Linked DNA regions of Homo sapiens. The protein of the gene in region 1 purifies or fractionates together with the protein of each later gene. This does not show direct contact. Each region holds a gene or a part of one and is shown in the gene's direction. Other genes may lie near its edges. The genes, in order: PROM1 and CDHR1.

The links.
Region 2: the proteins of PROM1 (region 1) and CDHR1 purify together in Homo sapiens (affinity purification with western blotting; one study listed by BioGRID). This does not show direct contact.

Annotation. Positions count from the first base shown.
Region 1 is NC_000004.12:15,986,449-15,990,264, reverse strand, and holds part of PROM1 (prominin-1 isoform 1 precursor), read left to right. Parts: intron 1-440; coding exon 441-533; intron 534-2,548; coding exon 2,549-2,602; intron 2,603-3,816. UniProt on the Homo sapiens protein: May play a role in cell differentiation, proliferation and apoptosis. Binds cholesterol in cholesterol-containing plasma membrane microdomains and may play a role in the organization of the apical plasma membrane in epithelial cells.
Region 2 is NC_000010.11:84,214,914-84,218,729, forward strand, and holds the end of CDHR1 (cadherin-related family member 1 isoform 1 precursor), read left to right. Parts: 3' UTR 1-3,781; downstream 3,782-3,816. UniProt on the Homo sapiens protein: Potential calcium-dependent cell-adhesion protein. May be required for the structural integrity of the outer segment (OS) of photoreceptor cells.

The DNA of each region.
Region 1 (3,816 bases):
AGTTATTTCTCCCTTCTGCCTTAGTTTCCTCATCTGTAAAATGGGGTAATGGTATCTACCTTATAGGATTGTTATTCATTAATAAATTAAACATTCATTGAGTGTGGGTTAAATAAAAATTTCTCTATGGGTCCTTGGTTTTCTCACCTGTAAAATGGGAAACTGAGAGTGGCTGTATCATGGTGAGGTGGAGAGAACACAGTCTCTGGCACTCAGGAAGGGCTCTTGGGTGTGGGTTATTGCTGAGAGTCCATGGTTCTGTGCTTTGAAGGAGGGTGTCTTGGCACTATCCCTCACACCAGCCCCCATGCCCACTCACAGCCATCATTGCATGCTTATGTCATGGCAGCCCTCCTGGCTACACAGGGCCCCTGAGGATAGCGAGAGTGCTTTGAGTCTGGAAAGATGGTATTGATCTTTGTTTTTTATTCTTTTTGTAGCCCCCAGGAAATTTGAGGAACTCCCTGAAAAGAGATGCACAAACTATTAAAACAATTCACCAGCAACGAGTCCTTCCTATAGAACAATCACTGGTAACAGTCAACGACGTATTGTATTTCACTGTGACCTGAGCAAAATCTACTGCAGCTAGTTGGCTTTCATTTAGCCTCACGACACATGCTCATCTCTCATAGGTCCCAGCTGACTGGCTTCAGCCCCAGAAGTTGAGCTGGCCTTTAGACAAAATAATTGCACCTCCCTCTGCTGCTTATTCCCTTCCGTTTTTCATTTGAGTGTGAACAGTTAGATAAAATCTGTGGCTGTCTCTTCCACCTTGCTCTAGTTTCCATTGCTGTGAGCAGGCCCTCCTATGCCCCGCATTTAGCTACAATGCTGTGGACTCACTTGATTCTTTTTCTCCGAGCTTTGTCTAGAAATATGTGAAGGTGAGGTTAAGTGCTTCTCTGTGTAGATCCACTTAGCCCTGTCTGCTGTCTCGATGGGCGTTGCTTCGTCTCTCCTCTCTTCCATCCTTTCCATTTGCTTCTCACCACCTTCTGGCTTCTTTTCTTAATGCAATAAAGGCAGTTTCTAACAAAGAAAGAATGTGGGCTTTGGAGTTAGACAGACCTGGTTTTAAATTCTGCTTCTGGCTCTCCAAACTATTGTAGCTTCTCAGTTTCCTCATCTAAAAATGTTGGGATCAATAACTGCCTTGCTCTTACCTGTTCATGGAAATGAAGGACCTGACCTCAGAGGATCTCAGTAAAGAGGAGGAATTATTATATTATGCTTGTGTGTGGGCCGTATTTGTAGCCATCAAGGAGAGAAGTGTGTGGAAACTGGGTTACTGAATCAGCTTGCTCAGGTTTGGACAAGCAAGTAAATCCACTTAGCCCCAACATCCAAACATCCGAACATCCCAACCACTAAACTTCCCAGAACTAATTTCCAATACTCTTTTTTTCTCTCTCGATTTCCTAATTTATTAGATTATTCACAAAGTCCTGTCACTGAATTTTCTTAATTTGTGTCCAGTGCTATTTACAATTTTCTGTAACTGGTTTATGCCTAACACAAATTTGTTAACATTTTAAGCTGGTTTTGCATTTTTTTAAATGCTTTTTTCCCAAGTACACAGGACCCTTTGGCCTTTTCAGAGCTAGGGCAACCTGTCCACAAATAGGCAGAGTGCTTCCTACCTGAGACCTATGATCTAAACCAGGGGTTGGCAAACTAGGGACCCTGCAAACTACAGCCTGCAGGCTAAATTCAGCCTACCAGCAGTTTTTGTAAATAAAATTGTATTGGAATATGGCCACACCCACTCATTTGCAAACTCTCTGTGGCTGCTTTTGATTACAAGGACAAAGTTGAGTAGTTGGGACTATGGCAGATAAAACCTAAAGTGTTTACTCTGGTGTTTTACAGATAAAGTTTGTCAACCTCCTGTCTAAACCATTCAGGTTAACCACTCTTGCGGGGCAGGCTCTGCTTTAAATAATGCCTTCCACTTTGATCAAACCTAATTCAAAGGGATTTCTTGGATGCCTCACATGTGATTTGCTGTTCTTCACAGCTTTAGGATATGTATCCAATGTTTTCTTCAGGTTTTCTTACACCAGAGGCATAGAAAGTACACATTGTTGGCCAGGCGCGGTGGCTCACACCTGTAATCCCAGCACTTTGGGAGGCCGAGGCGGGTGGATCACCAGGTCAGGAGATCGAGACCATCTTGGCTAACACGGTGAAACCCCGTCTCTACTAAAAATACAAAAAATTAGCCGGGCGTGGTGGAGGACGCCTGTAGTCCCAGCTACTCAGGAGGCTGAGGCAGGAGAATGGCGTGAACCCAGGAGGCGGAGCTTGCAGTGAGCTGAGATCGTGCCACTGCACTCCAGCCTGGGTGACAGAGCGAGACTCCATCTCAAAAAAAAAAAAAAAAAGAAAGTACACATTGTTAATTGTGTTGGTTATTTTTTCTAGAATGAAACCATTACAGTGTAAAGACAGATTTGATGGCTATCTTGTGGGAAGGGAGGACACAAGGTATGTGATCTTGCTGCTTCATGTAATAATTTTGGAAATATTATCTGTTTCTTGCCAGAGCACTCTATACCAAAGCGTCAAGATACTTCAACGCACAGGGAATGGATTGTTGGTAAGGGTTTACTTTGTTTTCTGTCATGGGGTTTTGTTATAAAATACCACACAAAGAATGCTAGAAATGTGGATTTTTGTAGGTACTTTAAGTTGAAAAAAAAAGCCTCAGTTATCTACCTATTTTAAATAGCAAATTGGGCTTTCCTACTATTTCCTTTCTACAAGTACTTCTCTAAGTGCAGACCTCATCTTAGCAGGCTATTAGATACATAGGTGAAATCTATGTTTTGATGTGTAGGATGCAAGCTTGGAAGGTACATTGGTCCCTTTCACAGAGATAATGCTGCCTAACACACAATCCCAAACCTCAGTGCCTTCTAAGTATAAATGTTCATTTTCCCTGCTGGTTTGACAGCAGGCTTCTCTACACATCTTCCCATTGAGAGACCCGGCCTGAAGGAGCAGCTCCTGTCTGGGGCACCTCATGTCCTCATAGTGGAGGACAGGAGTTCAGGGGATGAGTGGAGGCACAGGTTGTCCTTTAAGCTCAGAATGGGCACCCTGCCCCTTCACCAGCGTTCCATTGGCCAAAGCAAGTCACATGGTCACACACATCGTCGTCTGGCTGGGGAAGTATACTCCACGCTCTGGGAAGCCATCCAAGGAGCATATCAATAATCCTGAACAGCTAATGCAATCTACCTACCACAGGGGCCATGTGTGGGCTGCAAGCATTCCCTCAGCAGACACAGAGCTGCAAGGCTGGGTTGTATTCATCTTGTATCTACAGTACCAATGGGCAACTCAGAAGATATTTTTTCATTGAACGGAATAGTCTGTACATGACAGGTTTTGGGTATCAGCCCCACAGGATAAAACTAAATGTTCCTCCTTCCACTTTTCTCAGTGAGACCAACATCATGGCTCAGCTCCTTTGAAGATGTTTAGATTTACTCTGCTCCAGGACCCTCGCTATGCCTCTGATCACAGTTGCCATTTCATAGGTGTGTGTCTCATGCCAGGGGAACCTGGAAACACACCAGTGACTACGTGCAGGTGCTTTGCTACCTCTGTGAACAGGGCGAGGGTGTGCAGTGGTGCAAGGCCTTTCATGAGGGGCCCAGCCAAGGGGGTTAGTCGAGGGCAGAAACTGGCCATTGACTGAGTTGCCAGGCTCTGTGCCCTGAGGTCCCTGGGCAGAAAAGGCCCCATTTCCAATTTGCACCAAGCTGCCATGTGGGTTGGCAGAGGACTCGTCTTTGCTTGTGTTGT
Region 2 (3,816 bases), on another chromosome or scaffold:
GCTGAGAATTGACGAGAAGCCAGCTCACCCATCCCAGACCTCACAGTCCCTCAGGTTCTACTGGGATCTCATCATCATCCTTAGTCAAGCAGCAGGGCCCTGGCCACGTGGAGCAACACTGACTAGAATCTGGATCCTGACGCCTGCAGCTGAGAGCAGGAGCAGGAAAAGGAGGCTCAGCACTGTCTCAGGCTGGAGGTCAGCGAACCTCGTGGGCTGTAGGAAAGCAAATGTAGGTAAGGGGAGAGCAAGGATGCACAGAAAACACACTGACTGTGGGACTGTGCCAGGATGCATTTGGAAAGATAGAGCATTCTGTCTGGGCAGAGACTGTGGACCCTGGTATGCCCACGTGGGACAGAGGACACAGAGGTGGAAGATTGATCTTGCCAAGAGTGAGGGCAGATGTCTCCAGCCAGGACTGCCCTGAGCCGCAAAATGTCAAAGCTGGAGCTATAGAGGTAGCCCTAAAGGCAACTAGAAGAGCATCAGGGCTGCTCTCTGAGGAGCTGCCCCACCAGCCATCCTTGAAGAGACAATTCAGGGCAGTTGATGAATATCAGGGCTGAGATGTGGTGAGACTTCCGTTTTTATCCAGCTCTTTTGCTCACATCGCGTAACCTTGGGAAAGCTGTTTAAAGTCGCTGATCATCCTCTTCCTCATCTGTAAATGAAGAAAGTAGGCCCTGTCTACCTCACATGCAGGTCTAGGGTGAGGATTGAAGAAAATAGTGGTGATGAGGGCTTTAACCAAGTGCAAAGCGGCATGAATGCAAAGTATTTTTCTGCAGCCCAGTTCTGTGGGTGCAGCTCTTCCAGAAAGTATTAGGAGCCTCACATCTACTCTGCCAAGCGCCCCAGCAGGCACTGTGCTGGGCTTAGGGGCTACCACTGGATGATGGCATTGCCGTGACTCACACACCTCTACTTCTGTTCTTCCCTCACTCCATCCCCGCTACCGTCCTGGCCAGCTACCGTCAGAGAGAACCAGAGCTCCAAGTCTTTAATTTGCCAAGATGAAGAAAATGAGTTCTCAAGGAGGGAATGCTTTGCTTGAGGCCACACAGCAGGTTGGTAGCAAAGATCTTGTCTAGCCAGGGCAGCCCTTATCAGCTTGTGACAACCTTCCCCAGGACAGAAGTCATACAAGGCCTCTGGGGTTAATACAAATAGGTTGTGCCCTGCTTTAAGGAACCTGCTATCAGGAAATCTACATGTGTGCACAGAGAGAGAAAAGTAGAACAGTTCTTTGCATTTGGCTCTACTTACTAACAACCCCTCTAGAATACATTGGTGATTTCATTTAAAGAGATTGTATGCATTTGTGGCTTTCCTGATTTCTGAGTCTGTGTTTGGAGGTGTTACTGAGATGTGCCAGTGTGCAGAATCCTTGCTGGGGTTTCTACAGTCCCCAACGTGAACAGTATTAAGCAAGAGGTGGACTCGAGCAATCCAGGAGCCCAGACTGAGCAAATAAGTACTTTCCAGCCTGTGTTTCAGGAGAGGACTGTGCTGGATCATGCTTGCCCTCCACAGGGAATACAGCATCCTTACAGCTTGCATGCAATCAACCTCTTTTGTAAATGGAAAATAAAGTCTGTTACCCAAAGGCCATGCTGATCCCCTGCTCCCTGCTTTCATTTATGTTTGCTGACCTGTGGAGACCAGTCTTTCTGACACACAGTGAAGCTCAACTTGCCTCCTGGCTGCTTCAGCAGGTGGATCCATTCTTCGACCCCCAGATGTGACTCTAAAGAAGGCTGAAAATTTTTGTCCAAATTGCCATGCAGATATCTTGAACAGCAGGACATTTGCAGGCCTTGTCTACTGGACTTTTCTCCCAAACAGGACAAGCCCAGGCAGGGCTGCATGGAGAGGAATGGAACCTGGAGCTAGAATTAATTGCCCACTCTCCCACCCTACCAGTGCAGCCCGGCAAGGGCAGGAATTGGGAGGCCTAGGGTGGGCATGAAAGCTTGGGAAGCACTGTCGTCTCTCAGACAGGCGTCCTAAAGACCTCTAGGCTGGAAGCTTGGGCTTGCAAGTGGATCCGGGACCGAGGGTGGTCTCTTGGACAACCCCAGGAACTTGGACCAAGGCAGAGCCAATCTTGCAAACTGGCCATGGATGGGGAAGTGCCCGGTAGCCAGCATGAGCCACACTAGGAAAGAGGAGGAGGGTGCAGCCAAACTTAAGGCACCGGCAAGTGTTGTCAGCACTGGAGGAGACCCCGCCAGTGGGGTGAGGCCAGCCAAGTCCCTGTGTTACGAATGGTGGGCCAAGGGGCTGTCTGCTAGGTCCCAGTAGGACAGGCAGAGCTCCAGGCTGGCACCATGGTAGGCCTCCAGGGAAAGAGCTGGGAGGCAGGAATGGCACACTGGGCAGGCTTGCCCATTCCTGGCCCTGAGAATGGAGCTGTAGCCTCATGGACAATAAATGGATGTGACACCAAATACTCTGCAGAGTCATTTTCCTCCTGCGGCTGAGCTCAGATCTTCCAATCACGTGAAATAACAAAGTCCTTTACAGTTTGACAGCCCTAGGTCTGAATTCTGGTTCTGCCATTAATTGTGACTTTGGGCAAGAGGTCAAGTCTCTCTGGGCCTCACTTTCCTCATTAACACAGGGTGCAAAGTATGGTTGCAGAGAGGATGAAAAGATCTAATATATGTAAAGTGCCTAGCACCGGCTTTGTATCTACTTACACAAGCTCAGTAGACACTTGCCGTGACTGTGGCCCACATACTAGAACACCATGTCCTGAAAGAGAGGACCCCCTCCATGCATCCTCACCCCCCAGGATGTTTCCACCCACCTGTAGGTCCAGAAGCTTTTACTTCATGCTAGAAAAAGAGAAGAGAGTGGATCCAGAGGGGAGTGGAGGACAGGGCAGATGCCACAGCATCTGTGGCCTGTGTAGCCGGCAGCCTGCATTTGGGCGTTGACATTCCAGGGGAGTTAGGAACAATGAGAGGTCTCTAAGAACTTGTGGCACTCTGTCCTCAAGCAGCTGTCCCTCAGAATCCTGCTAGAAAAGTGTGATCAGAGCTGGGAAGGAGCCACCATGCTCTGCTTCTCTAAGGATTTCGGTGATTCTATTTTTAGGGACTGAAGGCGTTGAGGGAATCCAAGGCCAGTCCACCTGCCAGGGGTGTTGGCATCTGTTGACAGGCAGTGGCACATCCTGACAGTCTTCAAGGCCTTGGCCACCAAGGGATGGAGAGGGAGAATGGAGAAGATGCCACATGAGGAATGAGGCAGGAGACTGGCATGTGCCACATGGAGGACCCCTTAGGAAACTCACAAACAACCTAGGGAGGGGTTCTCTGAAGGGCCTAGTTTCCAGAATGAGGCGGTCATGGCTTAAGCGACCATCATTTGATCAATAAAGCAGAGTAGCAACAGGCTGATGTTGGGGACATCGGTTTGATGTTATAAAATCGTGCACATGTACCCCTTTTGAGGCCTGAATGAGGTTCGGTTATTTATTCATTTCTCAATAATTTACTCAGCCATTCCTAGGGTGACAAGTTTGGAGTATATCTTCTGTGCCAGGCTCTCTTCTAGGTGTTAGGTGTATGTCTCTAACAAGATAGAAGGAAAGAAGAAAAGAAAAAGAACAACATTCCTCTCTTTAATTGCTAATCGCCTGGGCCTAGGGAGTCTTCATTTTAAAAGCAAGTAGCCCTGCTTACAAATGTCTCCTCAATCAAAGGCATTTGCCTTAAACTTGTATGGTCTAAACTCTAAATAAATAAGCTTCTCAAGGGCATGACAACTATATCGGAAACTGTAGCATCTTTTCAACATGAATTA